Regions from separate parts of the Homo sapiens genome. Here region 2 is linked to region 1. A link means that fine-mapping ties the variant in region 1 to the expression of a gene that starts in the linked region. Tissue or cell type: tibial nerve. Region 1 holds a variant in brackets; the other region holds the start of a gene. All regions are shown on one strand. Distances are between the middles of the regions.

Region 1 (8,104 bases):
CGCCTCTCCTTTCCAAGTCAGCGTCCCGGGAACAGCATCCAGTGCTCATGCTCAGGCCATCACCTGCTGCCTCCCTGTTGGAGGCTGAGAGAGAACATCTGCCCTGCAGGCTCCGCCCTCCCACTGTGGAGCTTAAGGGAGCGCTGTGCTTCACATGGTGCAGGTGTCCCATGAGTGGTAACCCCCTCCCTCTCCCCCTTCCCCTCCCTCCACCACTGATGGCTGTAGCTCCTCCAGTCTACCAGACCCTTGCAAATAGTCCAGCTCCTGCCCAGCCTTTGAGAAGCAGGAACTGGTGACGGTCATCCCATCCTGACACTTCCCCCTCTTCGCTGCTGTGGCCACTTGCTGTCCCCTGGCCACAAGATGTGAGCTTTTCATAGAGTCCCTGAATGGTTCTGTATTGCTGGTCACAAAAGATCTTTGTTTGTTTGGTTGGTTGGTTGGTTTTTTGAGTTTTTTTGTTTTTTTTTTTCTTTGAGATGGAGTCTCGCTCTGTCACTCAGGCTGGAGAGCAAGTGGTACAAACTCTGCTCACTGTAACCTCTGCCTCCCGGGTTCAAGTGATTCTCCTGCCTCAGCCTCCTGAGTAGCTGGGATTGATTACAGGCACATGCCACCACATCCAGCTAATTTTATTATTATTATTATTTTATATATATATATATATATTTTTTTTTTTGAGACGGAGTCTTGCTCTGTCACCCAGGCTGGAGTGCAGTGGCACGATCTCAGCTCACTGCAAGCTCTGCCTCCTGGGTTCACGCCATTCTTCCACCTTAGCATCCTGAGTAGCTGGGACTACAGGCGCCCGCCACCATGCTCAGCTAATTTTTGTATTTTTAGTAGAGACAGGGTTTCACCATGTTAGCCAGGATGGTCTCAATCTCCTGACCTCGTGATCCACCCGCCTCGGCCTCCTAAAGTGCTGGTATTACAGGCGTGAGCCACTGTGCCCAGCCAATTTTTTTATTTTTAATAGAGATGGGGTTTCGCCACGTTGACCAGGCTGGTCTCGAACTCCTGACCTCAAGTGATCTGCCTGCCTCTGCCTCCCAAAGTGCTGGGATTACAAGTGTGAGCCACCGTGCCTGGCCTGGTTATAAAAGATCTTATTAACACTGGGCTACAAGTGAAATGATGGAAAGACAGCAAATCAGTTGCAGGAAATATTCTGAGAATTTCTTTTAGAAGTCATAGGGACCCCAGAGAGAACATTTCATTTGATGACAAGCGATCTGGGTTCAAAAGCAACCTCTGTTACTAACTAGTGTGACCCTGGGCCTGTGCATTCACCTTCCAATGTTTCTTTCCTCACCTAAGAAATGTAGTAAATAATATTTCCTGAGCAACCTGCAACTTGAAAGTCAACAAGTGCCTCCCATAGAAAGAGCTGCACAAACAAAGGTTGTCTTTGAGAGGGCAGAGGGAGAGCTGTGCAAGGGAAGGACAGGACTGTGGAGGGTGTCTGACCTTCCATATGGCTCCTGCTCTGCTCAGTTCAGCCCAAAGGCAGAGCCAATACAGATTTCCCAGCCACAGGCGCCAGCACACCTACTTGTAGGGGCCTGTCCTTCCTACAACAGCAGTGGGTGCCCAGAATCCTGCCTCCCTAAAACTATATTCACTCTGTCTACATAGCTTTCAAAGTACATGTTCTGATGCAGTAGGTTTAAAAATCAGCCTTTTTATATGTCTTTTCCCTTTGCTGTGGCTCTATCATGCAAAGCCTCATTGGGAGCTGGCTAATACAGCTCACACTCTGTGAAAGACTTGCGGCTCATCCCAGATGACCACTTACACATTCTCACCAACCACATATGAACAGAGGAGCATCTTGTAGAAAGACCGAACCCATGCCCTCCCCTCTTCCCCAGCCTGGAATGAAGTAGCCACGTTTACAGAGGAAAAAGACATAAAAATCAGCTTTTTCAACACTGTCAGCACTATGGGTGGTTTCTTTCTAAAGCCAGAAAATTTGGTAAAAATGAAGGGCAGCTTAAATTTGACTTGGTGAAGCCAAGGGAGAGACAAACATAGTTATCCTAAGCAGTACTGCAGCAAAGTAAGGTATGATTGCTTCCATTCTTTGAAGATAACTCCAGCCACCATTTTTCTCAGAAGTCCTAACTTTTGCATTATGTGTGGGTATGAACTTATATACCCACGAATATTTATAATTCCAAGATGCAACACTCACGCTTGCATTTTCTAAAGTCAAAGGCATGGAAATGTCTGTGACGCTGTGCTGGAAATCAGATAACTTGCTAGCTGCGTATCACAAAGGAAATGCAAAGAAAACAAAGGATCTACAATTGTTAACTTAATGTCCCCTGTCACTCAAGGGACTTTTGAGAAACACAATTTATAACTGTATTAATCTTTTCCAAACACAGACTTCAAAAATAAGCAATAACCTACTCTGATAATAACTATATAGCTATGAAAAAAATCACTCATTGAATCATAATTTGATTAGTCCTTTTTCAGGAGGCTCTGCGATAAAACTTTGCTTTATATACAGGATCACAGACTTTTGGAGATTGATGAAGGCTTGTTCTATTCCCTAATTTCGTATTCAGATGAGCAAAGTTGACCTGGAACAGTCAACTGGCTGTTCCAGGGTCACCCAGCAATAGTGGGCAAGGGAGAGCAGAACCCGCCCACTACTCTGACACTGGCGTCCCTCCGTTGCCCCACCTGTATACAGCAAGCATTTATTTATTATCACCCCATTTGCTCCACGGAAGATGAAATACATAAAAGCCTCCATACCAGGACCAACAAAGCCTACCTAATGAAAAGAGACAGGTCGCAAAGCATTTGGCAGGAACGGAGTCATTTCAGGTGGTGACTGGTTTTAGTCTAATTTATTTCTGAGTGAGGAAGATGCATTGATTCATTTTTCTGTCAACCTAGTCATACCACTAGCTTTTCATCATCGTACATATCCATTTGTTACATGTTCTTACCAATGCAAGTTCCTGTTCACAAGTATTTCAAACATCAAGATTTTAAAATGTGTCTTGAACCTAAAACCATTTTTATCATTACAACCTCAACTTATAAACAGGTTGTGTTCAGAAGTCCATTTGCACATCATTTTTGTTTTATTTATTTATTTTTAACTTTTTTTTTTTTTTTGAGACGGAGTCTCGCTCTGTTGGTGGAGCTGGAGTGCAGTGGCGCGATCTCGGCTCACTGCAAGCTCCACCTCCCGGGTTCACACCATTCTCCTGCCTCAGCCTCCCGAATAGCTGGGACTACAGGCGCCCGCCACCACGCCCGGCTAATTTTGTTTTTGTATTTTTAGTAGAGATGGGGTTTCACCGTGTTAGCCAAGATGGTCTCTATCTCCTGACCTCGTGATCTGCCCGCCTCGGC[C/G]TCCCAAAGTGCTGGGATTACAGGCGTGAGCCACCGCGCCCTGCCTATTTTTAACTTTTTGAGACTGAGTCTCACTCTGTTGCCCAGGCAGGAGTTCAGTGGCATGATATTGGCTCACTGCAACATCTGCCTCCCAGGCTCAAGCAATCCTCCCACCTCATCCTCCCAAGTAGGTGGACCATAGGGGCACACCACTATGCCTGGCTAATTTTTTGTATTTTTGGTAGAGATGGGATCTCACCATGTTGCCCAGGCTAGTCTCGAACTCCTGAGCTCAAGCAGTCCACCCACCTTGGCCTCCCAGAATGCTTGGGATTAAAGGCGAGAGACACCACACCTGGCCTTGCACTTCATGTTTAGAACCTGGAACTTACTTTCTACCAGAAAGGATTCTAAAAATAGAAATTAGGTGCCCAGCCAGGTCTTCCCAGGAGTCTAACCCACAAAGCCCATAGAGTCACTCAAGCGGCCCCCCAAGCACTCACGACCCGGGAATCTGAGCCCCTCCTCTTTCCTGCTTCTCCTTCATTCAGGTGAGGACAGTAGTAGGAATCCAGCCCTTTTCCTCTCCCAAAGTCCACTAAAAGAAAACCCAGAGAGCACACCTGAAATGGAACCTCTTCCATGTGACTGAGAGCCAGTTCAGCTGCGGTGTGGCCAAGATTTTCATTTGGATTCCTCCTGCTGCTGGGGGACAAACGGCTCCCCTAGAGCCTCCTTCCTCAGACCAATTGGCTGTGGGCCTTTTGCACTGGAAATTCAGGAAAATCTCGTAGTACAAATCTAGCTGACAATGAAGGTTCCTGAAAGTTCTACCACTCTCTTCCTAATTCCAACAAGATAAACAGTTTATACCCACCTCAGTGAGATAAATATGGGCTTTGGAGCCAGACGAAACATGAGTCTAAATCTCTGCCTTCCACTTTCTAGTGAAGTGTCTAGTGTCTCCGTGAGACAGTGCATATGTGGACGCTTTTATCCCTGGTGTCTGGTGCTCCCCACGCTATGGCACCAATCTCCCTCAGGAGTCTCCCTCCTCCCAGCAGCATTTCCGGTCACCAGATGCAATGAAAACGGAGAGAAAGGTAAAGTGAGAAACACTAAACAAAGGAATGGTGATACGGCACAGGTTTCTCTTAGGGCTTAATTCTTCACAGTGTCATGGGGTGAAGAAGGGGAGCTCTCTTTCCCAGGAGGATGGAGGAAGAAAGGAAGGCAGGTTCTGTGATCCCCACAAGACCTGGGACTCCCTGCTCACCAAGCCCCATTCTCACTTGGCTTTCCCAAGTGTGCTGAAAGGAAGGATCACAAATACTTGGGAAGGTGAAAGAATAAAACACACTCCACCAGCCTGAGCTCCATCCTGCCTTTAGAACTACTGATAAACATCAGGGATTTTTCTGTGCTAGCAAGGAGGGACATAAGTCTAATCATGCACATCTGTTTTACAAAGTTATCCATCTCCTTCTCCCAGCAAACCCCTCTGATTTGAGTTCTACTGCAAATGCCAACCACCTCTGCAGGGTTTCCCATGATGCCTCATTCATTCAGCAGAGGCACATTAACCACCTATGATGTGTTCATCACTGTGCCCAGTGCTGGAGTCACCAACCACAGGCCATGCAGATAAGGCAGAGGGCAAGTGTGCTAGCTTGAGATTGGACTTGCTCCTGGGCAGCCCACCTCCGTTCCTTACCAAAGTGCCTTCAATCGCTGGACTCCAGGTTTCAGGCTCCACCACTTCACACAGCCCTTCACACTCCACTTTTACATGTCTCTGTCACCGAGGGACTGGGACATGCAATCCCTTGCTTGAGTCACATGGTTGGTTAGTGGCACAACAGGAACTAGAATCATGGACCCTCCTGTGCTCCTCCCTGGACCACTAGACCAGGCTTCCTTTGAATTGTCTACTTGGTCAAGGCTGAGGTTGAAAGTAGGAAGACATAGCCAAAGTTTAATGGAAGAAGGAAGGTGTATGAAGCCCAAATCACATCCACACATCAGTTTTCTCCTTGTGCTTTAGTTTCCTTGGATGTGAAATGAAATTGATAAATGAGAATCCGGTCTCCAGATGATTCTCCTGAACTGCCCCTCCTGGCAGAAGAGCAGGAGTGAGTATATGTTTTGCTCCTAAGGACCAAAACCCAGCCCACAGCAGCCCTCTACAAAGCAGTAATTTTTTGATGTTCCTTGTTTTCACTGAAAAAGAAAATCAAGTCCAGTTCTGCATTTTACACCGTAGTACAGTTGGATTTGTTTTAATATAAACAAATATGAATACGCTTATCCTGTACAAATTTTTGACCAAAATGAGTCTCTGGAGCAATGCACCAGCTGACCCTGTGGTTTCTTGCACTTTTGTCACTCATCTGAGTCCTAACGGGTACATGGCTCAGTGTGAGATGTGGAGACTTACACATCTCCTAAATCTCACCCGCACATCATGCAGGCGTACACTTGAGCTTCAAATAAAAAGCTGGGGAGTCACACTCAGGTTTGGATAATGAGTACCGAGAAGAGATCAATTCAATAATGATTTTTGCATTTATATGTGCTCCATATAAATGACCTCCCCCTTGCACCCACGCCAGCTTGGCCCAGGACCCAAGATACCCCTGGAAGAGGTTCAGTCAGGTGCCAGGCAGAGTTGTCCGCTGGAAAGAAACACACCTGCTCCCGCTTAACAAACTAGCATACCGTGGATCTTCACAATAATGTGGAACAATGAGGGATTGCTTTTCAATGTTTAAAATCACTCCATCATTTACTAATCACTAAAAAGTTTATTGTCAACTTCTTGTGAAAAGCAACCACACTTCTTTTTGATAGCTCTTAGTAACCAAAACTTTTTTTTTTTTTTTGAGACGGAGTCTCGCTCCATCGCCCAGGCTGGAGTGCAGTGGCGCGATCTCCACTCACCGCAAGCTCCGCCTCCCGGGTTCACGCCATTCTCCTGCCTCAGCCTCCCGAGTAACTGGGAATATGGGTGCCCGCCACCACTCCCAGCTAATTTTTTGTGTTTTTTTTTTTTTTTATATAGACGGGGTTTCACCGTGTTAGCCAGGATGGTCTCAATCTCCTGACCTCGTGATCCACCCGCCTCAGCCTCCCAAAGTGCTGGGATTACAGGCGTGAGAGCCACCGCGCCCAGCCAGTAACCAAAACATTTTAAAAATTGTATTTAAGCACTTCCTTTTGTAGGGTAGCTAATGCACTGTGCAGGTATCTGCTCAGATTTTGGAATTTTCATATGTTCTCTCTGTGGGATGGATGGATCCCTCATCCATCCACTGAGTTAGAACTGGTAAGAGTTTCCAGCCTTCTGATTTTCTGAACACGCAGTGCCGAGGTTAAGATGGAGGGCAGGAGTTAGTGGGAACCCTTTTGTTATCTATGAGGCTTCATTTGCCTAACTTTCATCATTTCTGAACCTCCATAAGGGCAGTTTATTGTATTATAAAAGGTTATTTGCATAAAAATCTTCATTTGTTTTCTTGAAATTATGTTAACAGAAAAAACAGCACACGACAGTATAAACACCTCTCACACAAACAGCTATCAAGAGATAATTTAAATGTTTTCTAGGGAGGCCGAGGTGAACAAATCGCTTGAGGCCAGAAGTTCAAGACCAGCCTGGCCAACATGGTGAAATGCTATCTCTACTAAAAATACAAAAATTAGCTGGGTGTGGTGGTACATGCCTGTAATTTCAGCTACTGCCGCGAGGGGGTGGGGGTTGGGGGTTGGGGGCTGAGGCAAGAGGATTGCATGAGCCCAGGAGGCAGAGTTTGCAGTGAGCTGAGATTGCCTGGGTGACAGAGAGAGACCCTGTCTAAAAAAAAAAAAAAAAAAAAATTTAAATTTAACATTTATGAGGGCCTTTTTTCTATGAAGTTGCCTGTATTTCCATTTTTTTTTTCAAAAAGTATATCTGTATTGGAGTTAAAAATGGTTTGATGGAATAATATTTCAACTAACTGAAATTATATTTTAATTATTATCCATCTCCAATATTTATTATAGTCCTAGTGTACAGTTTGTTGAGCCCATATTTTCCCTGAGGACTGAAGTCACTGTGAGTAAACTGCCACAAGGTTATTTTATTTCTGGAGGTTGTCTCCCCTAAGTACTGTGAAAACCTATCCTCTTGACGGGGTGCCAACATGGACATTTTCTCATTCACCGAGTAGGAGAAGTCTGCAGGCACTTTTCATTATTTAAGAATTCATGGCCCGGCGCGGTGGCTCATGCCTGTAATTTGGAAGGCCGAGGCAGGCGGATCACGAGGTCGGGAGATCGAGACCATCCTGGCTAACACGGTGAAACCCCACCTCTACTAAAAATACAAAAAAATTAGCCGGTGCGGTGGCGGACACCTGTAGTCCCAGCTACTCGGGAGGCTGAGGCAGGAGAATGGTGTGAACCCGGGAGGCGGAGCTTGCAGTGAGCCGGGATCCCGCCACTGCACTCCAGCCTGGGTGACAGAGCGAGACTCCGTCTCAGAAAAAAAAAAAAAAAAGAATTCACAGCAAAAGATAAAAGCTTTTATTTTTGTTATTTATTTTTGTTTTATGAACGTGGCCCTTTCAGCTTTATAAGAACAATCCATATCGGTGTGCGAAAACCACACACAACCACTCTCCCGAGGAACACACATCCAGGTAGCCGAAGCCTGAATGAAACAGTATGTTTGCCCTTGGTTTTCATGGAAGCCTCA
Region 2 (8,104 bases), 59 kb before region 1:
AAGTGGTACCCTATGACTCTCTGTTTCTCTGTATCCATGTGTCAGGCAGCAATCTATATATCCAGATGTATCAGGCAGCAATCAACAGGGTATTTCTTTCTGTGTCACCACCATCTCTCAGAAGACAGTTTTTATAAAATGGGGGTAATGGGGAGTCAGGGAAGACTGAAAGGTATAATAAGTCAGGAACCATTTTATAAAAAGCAGACACTGGAAGCAAAGGGAAAGACCTACTAAGGTGACAGTCAGAACAACACAGCAAGTACCCAAGGTACACAAGCCTGTTTATGGCTAGGATGCTACGGGCATTGCAATCATCTGAGCTTAGCAACATGTTTTTATTTCCAAAGCAAATTGAATTGCAAAACTGGAAGTACAGATGTTATCTTGATGCTGGGCAAACTTGGAAATATTCATATGACTTATCCAGTAAGTCATCTTGCAGTACTTGTTAAAGTAGATATTATGCCAGATTTCAAATGCTCTTAAAAACCACCAGGGTTGGCTGGGCGCGGTGGCTCATGCCTGTAATCCCAGCACTTTGGGAGGCTGAGGCAGTCGGATCATGAGATCAGGAGTTCGAGACCAGCCTGGCCAACATAGTGAAACCCTGTCTCTACTAAAAATACAAAAATTAGCCGGGCATGGTGGCACGCATCTGCAGCCCCAGCTACTCAGGAGGCAGAAGCAGGAGAATCGTTTGAACCCAGGAGGCGGAGGTTGCAGTGAGCTGAGATTGCGCCACTGCACTCTAGCCTAGGCCACAGAGAAAGACTTCATCTCAAAAAAACAAAAACAAAACAAAACAAAAAAAACCCACCAGGGTTTGGAAGAGATTAAAAAAAAAAAAAAAAGGTCTTTAAACAGAAATCCTTAAATGTGGATGTAGATGTAGATTTAGTCTAATGGTTACATTATAATCAAATTCCTAGCTGAAAATGTACCTGTATAAGCCTTCCCAAGAGAAGATGAGATGGAAAAGAACTATAAGCACATAACAAATCATTTTGGAATCCAATAAAAGCACTTATCTACGTATTCAAAAGGCTATTTGACGTGGTATTTTACAGTGCTGCCCTTAGACTGGGTAAGAGGGGACCACATCTCCGGGCCCCACTCCTGCCATAACCTGTCTTCCTGAAGACTTCCTAGGACAAAGTGGACACATCTATCCAGAACCAGTGCCCCTCCACTTGGTTTTAGTCTGTGATCCGGGTCCCCAGAATTCCCTTCTCAAATCCCAAGTAGCTTCTAGGGCATGAACAAGCTCCTCCCAGATCTGTTCTGGCCTAGGGGGACATCACCACTGGTGTGTGCAGAGGCATCATGGTCAAGGAGTGGCAGGTGCATACCAAGACTGGGCGTGCGAGTGGACACAGTGTCCTTTACCAGGTGGGACTGTACCAAGGATGGGAAGCAAAAGGGAAGAAACCCAGGCCAGGGCAGTCTCCTAACTGCATTTCAGTTCATGACTCTGGGAAGTAACATTTTGAATTCAAAATGCAAACCTAGACTTCAAGGTCATTATGAAGATGTAGCTGTCAAGATCAGTGGACAGAAGAAATTTTATACAAATGTTGTTAGTTTAACTCATAAGTTTTAAACATTTAGACAGATGTCTTGTAGACCTACATTTGCTCTCTTGCACGGTACAGACAGGCCTCATGGGTATACAGTGGACTCAGATTCCAGACTGGGTTCATCCTCAACCCCAACCCACCCACCAGCTACATGAGCTTGAAGCAGCCTTTTAATCCTCTCTGAGTCTTCACTTCTTTATTTACATTTAAACAAGGATAAAAAGAACATCTTCTTTATAGGGTTGTTATGAAGACTAAATGAATTAGCCCAAAGTACCTAGAAGAGCACCTAGTCACCTAGTAGGTAGGTAATAAATTCCCCTATGACATTATTCTCATACAAAACTGATTAGTCACTGCACACTTCCAGAAAAAAACACAGACAGAAAGTGGTTCTGTGTATTTCTTCTTTCCTCTTCCTCTTTCTAAATACATCACTTTACACTGCTCCAAAAGATTATTTTCTATTCTGAAAAGGTCAAGTCATCTGATTCCTAACCTGCTTGGGTCAAGTTCTTCTGAAATTAAAGATGTGTTCATATTCTACCCCAACTCAGCAGATAACTCAAGCCTTTGGCAGGTTTGAGGTTTGAAGGCTGGGAAATTGGCTGTGTCACTTTCATGGGCTAAACATTTGAAAGAATTACCACTTTTAAGTATAAAAAGGACATTTCCTAATCTTCGTATGCATGAAGTTCGGAGCTGTAAGCTAGGGTGCGTCCTTCTTGATTCACAAACCAGAGGCTGAAATACTTGAAGCTATCAACAAAGAAAGGTTACTCAACAAGAGAACCCAATGCTAAAAATAGAGCACTATCAGCAGAGAAATAGATGCAAAGAGACAAGCCTTTATTTGGCTACTTATTTGCCCATGTTTCTTTATTATTAAATGGAGGTACACCACCAGCATAGTGATTACAAATTGCCAACAACCTAATTATTTCTCTTCCTTCAGCCTACAATGACTGAACAAACAACTTGAAGAAAAATACTTGCCACGTTAATGACATGCAGGCAGCATATAGAGCATCTTGAATTATTTCACCACAAAAACCTCCCTTTCAAATGTCTAGCTGTTTGCTACGGGTTGAAGATTTAAAACCCAAGAAGAAAAGTACAATACAAGGAAAAGATTCAAGCTCATGTTTACCCTTTAAAATATATACCTAACCTACATGTTCCACACAGGAAACAATCAAACCTCCATTTTTTCTAATTATTCTGAAGTATTTTTTAAATATATTGTTTATCAGGCTACTCAGTGGGTAGAGCTCTTTCTAGCTTCCCAATCTAAGCCTAATTAGTCTCCCACAAAAAGAACCATGCTGGTGCACTGTTAATTTCAACAATGCTTTTTCTATTAATTCGAATCTTTTCCAAATCCCAAATGGAGAAAAAAAAAACAGTATGAAATAAATGAAAATTAACTGGATTCTACAGAGGCAGGACTGAGCACATCCACTCATCCAACAGTAATCCCATCTACATCAAATAATGTTTCTTTACAGAGTTTTGCCAACTTCCTATAAAAATCTCATGAATACTTCTTATGTTTGCCAGTTTTTATTTATGCAATTAAATTAGCTTTTTGTAAGAGCTGGACTGGAGAAACAACACATTTTTACAACCCCATTAGTCATACAGTCAAGCTTCATTATATTATAATCATTTATCAGTAGTCAGTAACGAGTATGCTGTTTTCTTGTGCAATGAGGGTGTTTAAGAAAACGTGTCTTCACAACAGGCCATGAAATGTGTCAAATACAGAACACCCGACATTAGTGGTAAAGCCTGTGAGTTCATCTGGTTGTCATCTCTGTTGAAGAGCACAACAGTTGAATGAACACAAACCTAGCTTTAGCTTAGAAGCCACATTCTTAATTATTAACCCCTTCATGCTTCCACCCTTTCCAAACTCCACTCCCTTAAGAGGAGGTCACTTCATTTAGAATTAATAACTGTTATTCAAGATGCTCATGAGAGATCATTTTGGCTTCAGTCGTTTTGCTGCAGTTTATTCTACATATTTCTCCCTAAATCAAATGTATACACGTCCCTGAGACTTGTGTATGACCTTAGTCCCTGGACCTTGGGAAGTCACGATGTCGTGGAGGAGAGGGGAGCTGGGAGCCTGAAGCTGACAGATCCCGGGATCCCGCAGGCCCCCCGCAGGGCTCCCGCCCTTCCACCGAGGCACCCGTCGAGGTTGCCCCAGATGCTCATTCTGCGCCCATCAATGGGAGTAACTGAGCTTAGAGAGGAAAAACTACGGCTTCAACAAAGCACAACGTGTGCAGCTCTGATAATGCAGGGCGGAATTATGGAGACACCGTCGGGGCTGGCTGGAAAGCGGAAAGCGTTCCATCTCAGGATTTTCACGGGGAATTTCAAGAACCAAGGGGGCCTCTGAGATCCCCAGAACCTCTCCTTTCCACGAGGCAGCTTCCTTCCTTCCCTGCTCGTTCTCCACAAAAATCAGGGCTGCCCGGATCCCAGCAGTGAGCGCTGCTCTCTTTGGCTGCTGTATCCCCAACCGCTGCTGAGGCGCAGCTGGAGTGAGCCCCTCCGAGCCCCGCTTTGCGCAGCTGCAGCTGGAGCCCAGAGGCGCCCGGAGCTCGGAGAAAAGCACTGTGCTCCGCGGGACCCAACCCTCCCCACGGCCACCAAGGGGGCCCGCAGATCCCCGGGCACCGGCAGCCGAACCCAGACAGGGGCGTCCCAACCGCTGAGCCCGACGCCAGAGGGCACCGCGGGGGAGAGAAGGCGCCGCGCCTCGCTCCTGGCACTTGGTCCCCGGGAGTCAGGGACATGCGCGCCCCGGAGCTGGAGCCCGGGAAAATTACTGCGCGGGCACAGAGGAGCTAGAGAGGTCCCCGACCCTCCCAGCCCCGCGCCCAGGTACCTCGCAGCCGTAGAGCTGACCCAGCTGCTCCACGATCCATTCCTCCAGCACCAGCCGCTTCCGAAGCTCCTTACGATCGTATTTCACTGTCACTTTTCCCTGCTGGTGTCGCCGCTGCTGTTGCTGCTGAACCTGCCCTGCAGCGGCCGCCGTGGCCACGGGCGCCGAGTCCTCCCGGGAGGAGCCTGAGCCGCTGCTGGAGCCGGGGCTGCCACCGGCGCCACCCCGGGGGCTTTGGAAGAAAACCCGTGCGCCGCCGCCGCTGGCCCCGCCGGCCGTCTCGCTGCTGCCCGTCGCCACCGACATGTCCCCGCGCGCCCGAGCCTCAGTGCGGCCCGGAGGAGGGGCGGGCGGAGCGCGCCCGGCGCCGCTACCACCTCCGGCCCGGCAGCCGCATGCGAAGGGCTCCCCGGCACCTGCTCTGCGCCGCGCGCGCCCAGCCGCCCGGCTGCTCTGGGAGGGCGGGAGGAGCCGCGGCGAGAGGGAGGAGGGCGGGGAGGACGACGGGGCGGGGACCGCAGCCTTAAAGAAGCCGCCGAGGACCCTCTCGGTCCAGCCCCCAGAGGCGGGATCTGGCGCCTGCGGCAGAGAGGGCCCGGGGCGTGGGAGTCTCCGCGGGGCGGGAAATGTGTGCGCCTAGACACGGGAGGTCGCCGATGTGTAGACTCCGGAAGGACGGGCGTGGGGCGGGGTGCCAGGGGATGCTCCTGCGCGGGTGTCCGTGGCCTCTAGTCTCGGAGACAGGGACTCACGCTTCTCCCGCAATCCCGGAGCGCAGGAAACGCGCCGCCTCTCGGGGCCTCCACCTGGCGCGGCCCCGGGCAGGACCCGCAGCGAAGGGGACACAGGAAAGGACCGCGCCGCAGGCTCCCCCAGGAGGTTTTCCTAGCCCCACCGTCTCCTCTGTTGGCTGGGTAGCGTCCCCTCCCCTCCAGCCCCGCCCCACGGCTCCAAACACACATTCCTATTCATGCCACGATGGATGCCACTTCCTCTCTGGATTGTGAGAAACATCGAAGAGGCGATGTTTGTGCAATAAGGCAGTCACGGCGCTTGAGAAATTATTTCCAGACCAATGTTTTCTTTCCTTACTAAGCGTCTGCTTAATCATGGGCACAGCATTCGGATATCTTCGTATCCAAAGGGCAGAAAGCGTGACGGCGCTCAGGCAAGGCGTCTGGGGGCATCCAGACAGTAAACATTTCTCTAAGAGGGTCGGCGACAGGGTCCTGGTTTCACATTTCTAGTGTTGCGTCCCGTGCACTGCCAGCTTTCTCTCCATCCCATTCCAAACAGCCCCTTCCACCCAGGAGGGCAACAGCACTGCCTGACTCTACTGCAAAACATCACAGCCTAGTAGTTACACATGAAGGAGCTTCTCAGAAGGGTTAGGACAATAAGGTGGGGAGGGAAGTTGTAAACAGAAAACTGCATGTGTAAAATTAGGGAGACACTAACATATTCTTCTTGTACACAACAATACATTCCTGTTCAGGAACTGATAGAAACCACAGAGACGTCCGAATGAATACAAGTAAGCGGCTTTTAGTAACGGTTTTGTTTTGTTTTGTTTTTTGAGACGGAGTCTCTCTGTTGCCCAGGCTGGGGAGCAGTGGCGAGATCTCGGCTCACTGCAACCTCTGACTTCGGGGTTCAAGCGATTCTCCTGCCTCACCCTCCTGAAGAGCTGGGATTACAGGCTTTCGCCACCACACCAAGCTAATTTTTGTATTTTTAGTAGAGACAGGGTTTCACCATGTTGGTCATTCTGGTCTCGAACTCCTGACCTCATGATCCGCCCGCCTGGGCCTCCCAAAGTGCTGGGATTACAGGTGTGAGCCACCGCGCCTGGCCATGAACTTTTTTTGTTTGTTTGTTGTTGTTGTTGTTTTTAAATAAAAGAGCCCTAAAGGTTACTGGCAGCTACTCAAAGAAGTTTCTCAGAGATAAAATAGATACCAAGTCAAATTCCTCGGAACACTTTCCTATGATGGAGAAGATCCTGTGTGGGGTTCTAGACTGACACTACAAAGACAAAATAAAAGTAACCAGCAGGTTTCTCCTGGCGCTTCAGGCTCTGCGATCCACCAGCGCCCAGCTCTGCTCTACCCAGGCTTAGGATCCATTGCCTTTGTACCCTCAGTCTGGGGTTTTCCAGTGAGAGCCTGAATAGGGATTTTCCCAAAGTGTTCCATGCCTGCGGCTCTTCACAGGGACATGTCAAGCCTCACAATGTGAAGGGGAAGGATCTGCGGAGATTGAAATAGGGTGGCTGGTGTGGGGCCCTGGACTCCTGCCATAATTACAAAGGGGTCAAAGCTGAACGATCTCTGCCCCGCTAGAAGAGGCCAGCTGCCCTTTAGAAGATGGGTTTTGCACCGAGCCTATCAGGGACAAGGGAGATGAATTACCTTGATTGCCCCTAGAGACCGATGACCAGTCTCTGCACCACCTCTGCCCCTCTGCCTTTAGGGTGGGTCACTGTAAACCCCGAACACACAGCCAAGAGAGTGACCACCTCAAAATGGAACTCTGTCTGCAAGGAGGAAGGGAAAGGAGGGCAGGAACCAGCCCCAGCATCTCCCACACAGAATCAGCTTATATGGCTCCAGACATCTGGCCAAGTCCGCTAGCACCAGCTTTGACCAACTGCACTAATCAGGAGAATGCAAATCAGAACGAAAACAGCTTAAATGTTATTAACAAAGGAGAAACTACATAAAATCTCTACCTCATTCTGGCCCTGGGACCTGACAATACCTATTGTGCCATCCCACAGTTTGGCAAAGTCTGGGGAATTCCAACTCCTTTCTTTAAGTCTTTGGACAACGAAATCAGTCATTCAAGGATAACGTCAAATAATTTTAAAAAATTCACTAAGTTCTTTCTGAGAAATTCTGATGTCAATTTTTTTCTCACAGCATAAGATGCTTTTTCCTTTATGCTTAAAACTCAATTTTCCCTTACAACTCCAAAATGACAGATACTAAAAGACATGGGTTTTAAGCATCTTGACTCACAGAAGAAAATCCAGGAAATAGTCTCTTTCCACAGGTACGCTGGCCTTCAGATGTTCAAGTGAGTCACCTTGACTGGCAAATAGAATTGAACCAGGGTTCCTCTTTCTTTAAATCCATTTGCTCCACCCAGTACGTAATTTATATTCAAAGTGAAGTCCATATCATCTCCTCTACCCCCAGACACACACACTTCATTCCAGGTTTGAATAATCAAAACTTAATGGCCTCATTTTGACAGATAGAAATACTGCTTTTGCAGATTTCAAATATTGAAGCCAAAATATTTAGGAATAAAGGAATTTTTCCTAGTCCAGAGACCCTTTACATAGCTGACTATTTAAATTCGGCAAAACCAGTGGTATTTCTCATCTACAAAACCAATAATATATACATTTATTCAAGGAAAACATTTTTATTTCTAGCCTATTTAGTCAAGTGTTTTTAGGTGCTGGTTAATCTAAGACAGTGAATAGCTTTCAGTGAATTGAATGGTCCGGAATCAACTTTTACCTGAAGGCAATTACTCCCTGCTATGAGAGGGCAGCCTAAGGATGTTTCATTTGAATCTTTTTCTTCGTAGTTTTGTGTTTTCTTAGCTTGGT

Evidence for each region. PIP is the estimated chance that this variant, and not a neighbour inherited with it, causes the effect.
Region 2: PPP1R14C starts here. The variant in region 1 is fine-mapped to the expression of PPP1R14C in tibial nerve (GTEx, PIP 0.99).

What each region holds. Positions count from the first base shown.
Region 1 is chr6:150,080,941-150,089,044 of GRCh38, reverse strand. No RefSeq gene overlaps it. Among named protein-coding and RNA genes, the nearest start is that of ULBP3, 16 kb to the right of the region's middle. The variant C/G (reference allele first, on the strand shown) is at 3,385.
Region 2 is chr6:150,139,877-150,147,980 of GRCh38, reverse strand. PPP1R14C (protein phosphatase 1 regulatory inhibitor subunit 14C) reads right to left here and starts at 4,937. Exons shown (of 4, transcript NM_030949.3): 1 at 4,483-4,937. The coding sequence starts at 4,788.